2 separate regions of the Homo sapiens genome follow, and region 1 is linked to region 2. The links come from fine-mapping of genetic effects on gene expression. A gene starts in region 2. The other region holds a variant in brackets. All regions are shown on one strand. Distances are from middle to middle. Region 1 has its middle 9.8 kb from the start of DKFZp451B082. Region 2 holds the start of QKI (QKI, KH domain containing RNA binding).

Region 1 (5,364 bases), 57 kb after region 2:
GTGCACCCATCTTTTCTCTGTGTCTCTATTACCAGACTCCTGCCACCCCTGAAGCCTGGACTAATAACTTCTGGGCTATCTGAGAGTTTCTTTTGTCCCCAGGATTCAGCCCGTCTCTGACCCGCCGGTGAAGCGGCTTCCCGTCACCTGTTTCCATCTCCCATTCGCACAGCAGGTGATTCCACTTCCAGAACTTCCGAAGGTGACGCCCTCCCTCATCCTGTGTCCGCAGAACTTCCCTGGCCCTTGGACCATTTTCCTTGGAAGTCTCAATGTCTGTCATTTCCATTCAAATAAAACCTGCAGCTCTTGGCCCAGACCTCCACAGCTCTCCACTGGAGTCCCTTCCCACCTAAGGTGCAGATGAAGTCCAAGCTGGCTCTTCTGTCTTCTCCCCAAACTCGTCCTGTCACGGGGCACTTGCCACTCTTGCCTCTCAGCTTGCTTCATGCGAGATGTTCTGTTTGGCATTCCCTCCTTTCTCCTGGACACAAACTCACATCCCTCCCACTCTTCTTCACACTCCTTGAAGAGGCTTTTGATTCAAATTGTCTTGAGGCCTCCACATCACCCCAGCTATTTTAGCGACTCCTTGACATTTCTGAACAGCCATAAAGAATATGTTTCTTCTGTTTCTGTAATTCTTGTTTTCGGTACCTTATTTGAATGTAGGCTTTGTGGGTTCCGGCTCTGAGTCCTTTAACAACTTCTTATTTATACACAAGGAGTTCGGTAAAGTGTTAATTGAACAACTTTTCTTCTAAACACGAAGCTTGATGAAGTGTTACTTGACACAATGAGTGCCCAGTTAAAAATGTTAATTTTTCAGTTTGTTAAATGTGCGACCTTCACGGTGGACTGACTGAAAGTTGGTGCTGCCTGATCAGGATTTGATCTTTCTCTACAGTAGACAGTTTCAAACGCAGACCCTGCAGTGCCCCTGGAGCCATCTCTTCAGGACACCAGGACTCACACTGTCTGCGTGATCAGCACCCACGTGGCCTCCTCTCACCTGAGGGCCTGATCCACCAGCCTGAGATGCACCCAAGCCAACGTGAGCTAACTGTGCAAAGAGAGCCCCACAAGGCCCCATAGGAGAGGCCCTGCCGAACAAGCATGAAATAGAATATCGACATTGTGCCCTTGATCTGTGAGTTCCATAACACTATCAAAAAAGCCTTTAAGTTTTCAGAGCACAGTTTGTACTTGGTAAACCCAACCCACACTTCAAAGATATACCCTTCTCCAGATACAAGCTTTAAAAGAAGCTGTCTGGCCGGGCGCAGTGGTTCATGCCTGTAATCCCAGCACTTTGGGAGGCCGAGGTGGGCGGATCGCCTGAGGTCAGGAGTTCGAGACCAGCCAGGTCAACATGGTGAAACCTCGTCTTTACTAAAAATACAAAAATTAGTCGGGCATGGTGGCACGCACCTGTAATCCCAGCTACTCAGGAGGGTGGGGCAGGAGACTCGCTTGAACCTGGGAGGCAGAAGTTGCGGTGAGCAGAGATGGCGCCACTGCATTCCAGCCCGGGCGACAGAGCAAGACTGTGTCTCAAAAAAAGAAGCTGTCATGGTATTTCCTTTTCTTCTTCACGATTGGTCGCCACTCTTACCAAGCTCCCTCAAGCAATGTCTTTTCCTTTAATATACAGAAAGGCCATTCTCAGAATCTAGTACTTTTTCATTTATTTATTTATTTATTTATTTATTTATTTATTTATTTATTTATTTTTGAGACGGAGTCTCACTCCTGTTGCCCAGGCTGGAGTGCAGTGGCGCAATCTCGGCTCACTGCAACCTCCACCCCCCGGATTCAAGCGATTCTCCTGCCTCAGCCTCCCTAGTAGCTGGGATTACAGGCATGCGCCACCTCACCCAGCTAATTTTTGTATTTTCAGTGGAGGCGGGGTTTTTCCATGTTGGCCAGGCTTGTCTTGAACTCCTGACCTGAAGTTATCCACCCACCTCAGACTTCCAAAGGGCTGGGATTGCAGGCATGAGCCACCATGCCCAGCAGAATCTAGTACTTTTTCTCATTTCAGTATTGCCACTGTGTGTCCTGTACTAACATTCTCTGTTCCTCTCTGAATGTTCACATGAAAATGGCGTTTTTCAATCTCTGCATTGTGACCTGAGCCTGCTGCGCAGGAGGGCGGGATGGGGTGAGCGTGAGGAGCGGGATGCAGCCCCGCAGTCTTCACTGAGTGCTGCTGGGATGGCCCTGTGTTCTCTGTGTGTGACAGAGTGTGTTCGTGAGTGTCTGTGTGTGGGAGTGTTTACTGTGAGAGTGCATGAGTGTCTGTGTGTGTTTATGTGTGTGAGTGTATGAGGGTGTCTCTGTGTGTGTTTTTGTGTGTGTATGTCTGCGAGTGTGTGTTTATGTGTCTGTGCATGAGTGTCTCTGTGTGTATGTTTATGTGCGTGTGTTATGTTTTTATGTGTGTGTTTATGCGTGTTTATGTATATGTTAGTCTGTATGTGTGTGATGATGTCTGTGAATGTGTGATTGTGTGTATGTAGTTATGTATTTGTGTGTGTGTTAGTG[T/G]GTATATCTATGGTGTATGAATGTGATTTTGTGCGTGAGAGTGTGTATGTGTGTTTTTATGTGGTTTTGTGGGTGTGAGTGTGTATGTGTGTTTTTATGTGGTTTTGTGTGTGTGAGTGTGTGTGTGTGTGATTATGGGAGTGTGTGATGATGCATGCAAGTGTGTGATATGTAGGAGTGTGTGTTTATGTGTTTGCGTGTGCGCGTGTGTGTGTCTGTGTGTGTGTGAGCATGTGTTTCTGTGTGTGTGCACACAAGTGCTGTGTGTATGTAGAGAAACAGTTCCCAGCTGGCTCTACCCTAGAGGCCTGGGGAGGAGGGTGGCACCGGGCGGGGAGCAGGAGGGGGCGGGGCCAAGCAGGAGGGGGCGGGGCCAACCCGGAGGCGATTCTAAGTCTGCAGCTTCCGATCCAGTGCAGGCCCGCGGGGAACTCCTGCCTGTGTGCAACACTGTGGCCTTCCTTGGCAGCAAGTTTGTGAATCATACCCACATCTGTGCTTCACGTTTCTCCCTCCCATTTCAAGCATGGTCACTTAGCCCCTCCAGGAACCTCAACTTTCTAATCTGTATAAGGGCGACAAATTACAAATATGAATATTGAAGGACGTGGGAATGTGCCTGGAGGGGCCTTGTTGGTGTAAAGCACTTGAACGTCACAGAGTTTCTCTCCCCAGGGTCCAGCAGTGCCTATGACATTTTTAAACAATGCACGTGCCACATACATAGCTGCACAATACAGCGTGTTTCTACTTTTCTCTGAAACTGAAGGAATAAGAGGAGAAAGGAAAAGAATGCGGTGTTTAACTTTCTGCAAAGTCACAGGCTGTCTCCGCTGTTCACAAGCTGCTGTTTCGTGGGGAGTTGACCTTTCAGCTCCCTGGGTTATCCATGGCTTTGATCAATCTCTGGAAGTTCACTTATTGGCTTTAAATTGATCTATTGATTTAATAAAAGTCACATATCATCATCCCTGGTTCAGGACAAAGCACTCAATTTGTCTCCAGTTTGGCAAATATCATCAATAATAGATGTTTTGCTGATTCTGTTGGGTGACTAATTTCCATGGCATGCTCACAGGAAACTTGTTCCTGTCACAGTCCAGTCTCTCTGCACAGAACTTACAACCACGGCCTGTCGGCTGGATCCTGTCTGCTTAGATCCCTCATCACTCGGTCTGACTATCACCTGAGTCCCTTTTCTTAAGAATGACGAGGCCAGCTGCAACCCGTGATGGGAGAGGTGGGAGTAGGGGTTGGCGGAGTGGAATTGGGGTGCAGCTGCAGGCCTGCTCTCCCCAGTCTCCATTCCCTGCAGTCCCCAGTGGCTGGCTGAATAAGCCTCCCCCTGAGAGGCTGGCGGGGTTGCTGGGAAGCGGTGGAAATGAGGTCATCAGCAAGTGTGGATTCACTTCCTCTGGACTTTTGCAGCCAAGCAGGCAAAAAAAAAAAAAAAAAAAAAAAAAAGAAGAAGAAGAAGAAGAAGAAAAAGAAGAAGAAGAAAAAGAAGAAGAAGAAAAAGCTGAATGTCCAGCTGAAGGGCGTCTGAATGCTCTCCGTGATCTTCTTTCTTCTTGCTAACACAGCACAGCCTACACAGCCACACGCAGATGCGTGTGCAAACCAGTACTTCTGCACACATGAATGCCTGCACAGGCTTCCCTCAGTCTGTCCCCTACCCGGTCCTCCCACGCTGTTGGAGTGAGTGGCCAGGAGGCAGAATGCCAGCAGGTCTGGAGGAGTTATCAGCATTTGCTGTTTCTGAACATTTAGCCCCACATTTCAGAGTTTTGTCCACAGCTCCTGCCAGGGGCCGGCCAGGCTGGGAGCCTCCATGCCAACTCTGCATGTCCTTTGGGGAAATGAGAGTCAGCCTGCCGAAAATCGAAAAGGGAAATGAATCTAGCAAGCTGCATTCCTTTCTTCACCCCTTTATATACCACATGCCACCCCCGTTGGGCACCGTCTAGACCCTTTAGTGTCTCTGCTAATGAGTAGACAGTTTCTCCTGTGTCTGGCACATGTCTTCTGCAAACCACAGAGAGGAGATACACGGAGCAAGTGTCTGATCTTCCTCCTCTTCCCCCAGCATTGGGTAGCACCAGTTCAAAGAAAAGCACAGCATTTCCTTCATCATGACTTTGTGAGGGCAAGTACACCTCCTGGAGACACTTCCTCAAAAGTGACATCTCCATTCCTAAAACGCTGACCGACATTAATCCCACGTAAAGCTCTAGTGCCTTAGAAGAGATCATGTACCGACATCTCCTATTTTTTCCTTAAGGTTTTAGTCTTCTATGTGTAAAGGAAGACTACGTCTCTTAATAATTAATTATGATCGCTATTTAAAGCATTTGTAGCTATAATCAGAAACCTTAGCCTTGTCACCATTTTCCAAAGAGAGCTCCATTATTATACATTCTGATGCCCGCTAGTCTGAAAGAAGCTCAAGGAAAAAGGAATGCAATGTTTTGTCAGTCTTTATTTAAGCTCCATAACAAATTTTTACTCTGAAAAAAATTTGTTTAGTTATTGTATAGAGTTGCTGATATTCCTCAGATTCCTATGCAAATTGCATAAGATGGGCGAGGCCCGTTCTTACAGACACGTGCAGCCTTGGAGTGAAATACACAGGCTCTGTCATCAAGCTTGTGGCTGCTGCACTCAGTGAAGATTTCGGTTCATTTCTTGCCCCAGATCTTCTGACTCTTGCCGGGTTTCCAACTACAGGACAGAAGTGATCTCATTAGCACCCCGCATTCTTCATCCTCTTCCGGTTTCCTCACTCCTGACCCTGAAGAGCCCTGAGCTCTTCAGGCA
Region 2 (5,313 bases):
TTCAAGACAACAGAACTCCTGGGATTTTTCTTTAACCATTTTTTATCATGGAAACATTTCCGGCCTTTTGTTCTCTAGTGACATTCCAACTCCCCAAGCTTCAAACTCCTGTTCCCCGACTCTATTTTTAAAATCTCGAAATTCTTGCGAAAAATCTAAACTCCATTGTTCATCTCTTCAACCTGTAGTTTTCAGTTTCCTTTACACAGTCCTCCGGTGGTGCCTCTAAGCAGGAAAAAAAAACAAACAAACTCCTGGCCAGTCGATTTTCGAAACAGACTTTTTTTGTGGTCTTTTTTTTCTCTAGGCGTCCACAGAAACCCACAGCTACTAGAAATTAATACTTCAGGTACTGCTATGAGAACTTCTTAAGGAAATTCCAAAGTTGGTCAACATTAATCTTCTTGTCATTCTTCACTCCCCACAGCGCTCCATACAGCTTTTTGGAAACTTTGGCTCAATTTTATTTCGCCCTTTCCAAACGTCTCGAAACCCTGTCCTACAAACTCAGGCGGCTGCGTCCCCGGGAGCAAACCCTCCGCCCAAGTTCTTCTAACTCAGGCTGCGCTCCGATCTGTCATCGCGTTATTTCGCACTCCACCCCCCCCCCCCCCACCCCCGAAAAGTGAAGTTCAACTCCCTAACAGTTCTCGCTTCCCCAAACAAAAGGGAAAAAAGTGCTTTTCGCCGTCACTTAGTCCTCCTTGTCGGCTACGCCAGCATAATTTCGGTCTCCTACGGAATTTCTTTAAACTAACGAGCCCCACACTGACTTCCACTTAGTATTGAACAGCTGCACCAACTCCCCAACCACGAAACCCCGCTTTAGTCCTCACGGGAGGGGAGAGCTCCCGAACGCGGGGCGGTGGGGGTCCGCGCAGAGCAGGCTCGGGAGGCCGAGCGGAGGAGCGGGGCCCGCGCCGGGCACACGCGTCCTCCAGGCCGGCGGCGCGGCGTGGGCCTGCTCTCGGGAGGGCTCGGCGAGGACCACCGAGTCCGCGCAGCCCCCGCCGACCTCTCGGAAATGTGACCGCCGAAGCTAGAGGGGCCGCAGGGCTCACCCCGCAGCCCTCCGCAACGCGCCAACTTGGACGCCAGCGGCGCGGGGTCCCGGCCGGGCAGGGGGCGTCCGGCACCGGCGGGTCCACCCCGGCCCGCCCGCCCGCCGCAAGCCCGGCCCGGCACCTCCTTTGTGCGCCCTCCTGGCCTCCCAGTCCCCCCGGCGCTCGGTCCCGCCCGGCCGTGACCTTCCCGCCCTCCCCACCATCCCAAGCGGGGAAAGGGGCCGCCCCGGCGGGGGTCGGGCCGGGGCCGGGGCCCTGGAGACGCTCACCTTCGTCCAGCAGCCGCTCGAGGTGGTTGAAGATCCCGCAGAAGTTGGGCAGGCTGCTCATGAGCTTCTTGTCGTTCATCAGCTGCATCAGGTAATCTGGGGTGGGCTTCGGCTTCTCCTTCGTTTCCATTTCCCCGACCATATTCCAGGCTCCGCAGCTCACTCCGCCCGCCGCCGCCGCCGCCGCCGCCGGAGAGGAGGGAGGGGCGGGGGCGAGCCCCGGCCGCGGGCCGCTCGGGACCCGGCGTCCCGCTCCGCGCCGGCTCCCGCTCTGGCTCCCGCGCCGAGCCCCGGGGCGGCCGGCACCGCGCGCTCGCCCGCCCCCCGCAGGCACTTTCCGCCCGGGCCCGACGCGCTCCCAGCCGCCGCCGCTCTCGGCCGCCCGGCTCGGCGCGTCCCTCACGAGGCCGGCGGGCGGGCGGGAGGCGGGTCTCGGCTGGCCGAGTGCGGGCGCGGGGCGCGGGCTGCTGGCGCCGGACGAGGAGGAGCCGGGGCCGCCGCTCGCTCGGCTGGTCGAGCCCGCTCAGCGCCGCCGCCGCCTGTGCCGCGGGCTCGGGGGGTCTCTCTGGGCTGGTCCCCGCCGCGGCGCCTCTGCCGCTGCCGCCGCGCTCCGACTGCGCTCCTCCTCTTCCTCCTCCTCCTTCTCCTCCTCCTCCTCCTCACTCACTTGGCGGCGGAGTTCGCCTCAGTTCAGGCGGCGCTGCCAGCGGCGGCGGCAGCAGCGGCGGCGGCGGGGGGAGGGGCAGCGGCGCGGGGAGGGCCGGGGGCGGGCGGCGGGCGGGGCCGCGCAGGGCGGCCGTTAGCGGGTCCCGGCCGGCGCGCTCCCGCTGCCTGCTGCCCGCCGCCCCGCGACCGGGGCAGCCGCCGGCGCCGCGCCCCCTCCTCCCTGCCTCCCCGGCGGGGCGGGCGACGGGGGCAACGGGAGTGTGACGGACTGCGGCGCTCGGCGGGCCTGGGCGCAAGGACTGGGTCGCCGCCGTGCGGGGCGCCCGGGGCGGGTGGGTGTGGGCTGCGGGGCCGACGGCCGCGGGGGGGGCGCGGGGCTTTCCACGGCACGGGGCGGGTGGGGCTGCGGGCGCGGTCGGGGCTGGCGCGGCAGGCGAGAGGAATTCCAGCGGGACGCGCCAGCGCTGCCTCCGCCTCGCCTCCCGTTACTATAGTTTTTTCAGAACCTCTTATCCACCCCGCAGAAGAGAAATTTTTTTTTAACGTCCTGTTGCTTCACGGGGGACTTTCGGGGTGGGCATCACGTGGCCCGACACGTAGCCGTGGGGCTCCAGAGCGCGTGCGCGCGTCGAGCCCGGTCGCCACGCCCCTTCCGAGGGTCGCTCCGCCCCCGTCGGGCCCCGCGAGCGCGCGGTGGGGGAGGGGAGGGCCCCGGAGCGCGCCTGCGTGGGGCGGGGGCGGCAGCCGACTAGGGGCTGGGTCTGGCCGTTTAGGGCCGGGTCTTGGCCCGTCGCCCACGGTGCGGAGGGCTGGTGGGCTTTCCTTGGCCGTCGGGCCCGCCACGGCGCGGGTCTTGGCTGCGGGGCGGAGGTGGGGCGGGAGAGCCGAGGATAAGAGTTTGAGGCTTTTCGAGGCGCGTGCCGCGGCGTCCGCCTCTGCGGGACTCTGCGCCGGGCGCCCTCGGCCGGCGCGCCCGGCTCCCGCTTTGTCGCCGAGGGAAGCACGCGCGACGCCCCTCCCGTCGCCGCCGTGGCTTCTTTCGGTGTTCGTGATTTGCTGAGAGGCTGGAAAGCAGCACGGCGGAGAGGAGCCTTGCACTCGCCAGGCGGGAAGCCTGCGCGGACACGCGTGCGCACCCACGGGGCGGCGGGCGGGCGTGGGGGGTCCGGGCCACGCGGGCGACGCGCCTCTAGGGAAGCGATCTTGTTGCACCTTCCCGTTATTCTGAAAGCAAATCGTAGCCAGACCCGAGCGCAGCGGCTTAGCAAATAATAAGGGGAGCGTCAGTCGTGCTCGAAATGCTTCCTTCGCGATGGCGTCAGTGTTCCGTGAGGGAATGAAGCCGCAGTAGGAAATAAAGAGGCTGTGCGCGTAGTCTGAAAAGCAGAAGTCAACATTTTTACAGATGAAGAAAGAATACGGAGGCAAGAGGTCTTTCTCTGCAGTTTGGTGGATTTCCAACATTTAGACTTGTTTGGAAGAATTTCCTCAGCTGCACCAATGAAGTCCTTGATCTATAGAAGTCGGCAGTCCCTAAATCTACGTCTGCATTTTGTTGCAAATCCTTTATAACATTCCATTAAAATAATGCAGAGTTATTTAATATCCAGTTGGCCATCGTGAGAGTAATTCGCGGCTGAGATTTTGTTAATCATTCTGTCTTCTGACTTAACAGTGAACGTAGGTGATTTTTTTTGTAAAATGTTGCTTCACATGAATTGTGAGAATCACCTCTAAGTTTGAATTGTACTGAAGGCACTATAAGAATTTCAAATGAACGCTGAGTAGCCAGTAGCCTTCTGGCCTTTTCGTTTAACAAGCACAGAGTTCGTTTTTAAAATTAAGTTACTTTGACAGAGGAAATGTAATAGCCTTGGTAGACAACATTAAAAATGTAACTGTCAGATGTTTTAAAGTCTCCAACAGCCGTATCTGTTTTAGAGCCATAGAATATTTACTTACTGAATTGCCTGTTTAAAGATGAACTTTCTAAATGCAGGGAATAGTAACTTGCAAAAAAGCTATGGTCTCTAAGTAATGAAGGCTGTTTCAGTACCTAGAAAAATCAAAATCAAGGTTTTGATGCTGCTAGTGTAAAAGATGCAATCCCCTTCTTAATGGCCTGCTTATTTATTAAGCTCCTAGGCACTATGCTGAATGCCCTACATGCATATCTCGTTTAATCATCAGTACAACTTGGGCTTAGGTTAGACTGTTATCCCCATTTTACAAATAAGGGGAAACCCAAGAAAGATGAAGTTAAGTAACTTGCCCAAGAATATAGCTAGTGAGTCCTGTGTCTGGGATTATAATCCAATTATATTTTATTCTAAAGCTTTTTTTTTTTTTTTTGCTTTTTTTCCTTGCCCTATCCTTTAAATCAGGTTGAATTTTATGACAATATTCCACCATTTTTGACCCATAGAAATGGCAGTGTCATAAGGCTCAACCACTTAAACCAGATTAAAGAACAATGATAGGCAATTTTCATTTCCTATGTATTAAATCACTTACGGTTACAGCATTTGATAATAGCTACTGTGTGTTAATTTTCTTTTTTTTGAAACAGAATTTCGCTCTTGTCACCCAGGCTGGAGTGCAATGGCGCGATCTCGGCTCACTGCAACCTCTGCCTCCCCGGTTCAAGTGATTCTCCTGCCCCAGCCTCCCGAGCAGCTGGGATTACAGGCATGCGCCACCACGCCTAGCTAATTTTGTATTTTTAGTAGAGACGGGGGTTTCTCCATGTTGGTCAGGCTGGTCTCGAACTCCCGACCTCAGGTGATCCGCCCCCCTCAACCTCCCAAAGTGCTGGGATTACAGGCGTGAGCCACGTGCCTGGCAGGTTACCTTTTCAAATCTATGTAGATCACCTCATTTCCTGACAGTCCCTCAATGGTTTCTTATCTCAAAAAAAAAAAAAAAAAAAAGGAAAGAAAGAAAAAATCCGAAGAGCTTACCAAGTCCTGCAAGACGACAGGTGTGCCCCTGGTGCATCACTGACCTTATGTCCTTCTCCTCCCACAGCCCACTTGGCTGCACCCCCGTGGAATCCGTCTGGATCCTTAAATATTCCAAGCATGCTTACCCTCCCCAGGACTCTGCCCTTGGTGTTTGCTCTCCTCGGAAAGCTTTTCCCCATACATCGGCGACCCCTGCCCCTATTTATCTTTAGAAGGTGTCCCTTAACACCCTATGTAAAATGGCGCCTTTGTGCACGCAAACACTTCCTCCCTTCTTCCATCTGCTTACCCCAGGTTCTTTTCATACCATTTGTTTCCACGTAACAATGGGTCAACTCGTTTGCCACTGGC

The links. PIP is the estimated chance that this variant, and not a neighbour inherited with it, causes the effect. A credible set is the group of variants that fine-mapping cannot tell apart.
Region 1: its variant is the best candidate, but not a certain one, in a credible set for the expression of QKI in whole blood (TOPMed, PIP 0.50).

The regions. Positions count from the first base shown.
Region 1 is chr6:163,354,162-163,359,525 of GRCh38, reverse strand. No RefSeq gene overlaps it. Among named protein-coding and RNA genes, the nearest start is that of DKFZp451B082, 9.8 kb to the right of the region's middle. The variant T/G (reference allele first, on the strand shown) is at 2,548.
Region 2 is chr6:163,411,356-163,416,668 of GRCh38, reverse strand. It overlaps QKI (QKI, KH domain containing RNA binding), which reads right to left and starts at 1,951. Exons shown (of 8, transcript NM_006775.3): 1 at 1,334-1,951. The coding sequence starts at 1,475. LOC124901234 (basic proline-rich protein-like) reads right to left here and starts at 5,088. Exons shown (of 4, transcript XM_047419614.1): 1 at 4,960-5,088; 2 at 2,584-4,055; 3 at 2,001-2,420; 4 at 1,493-1,704. The coding sequence starts at 3,463. The coding sequence ends at 1,493. CAHM (colon adenocarcinoma hypermethylated) reads left to right here and starts at 2,719. Exons shown (of 1, transcript NR_037593.1): 1 at 2,719-3,604. RefSeq lists silencers at 933-1,122, 1,323-1,372, 1,623-2,442, 2,533-3,312 and enhancers at 1,393-2,046, 2,047-2,699.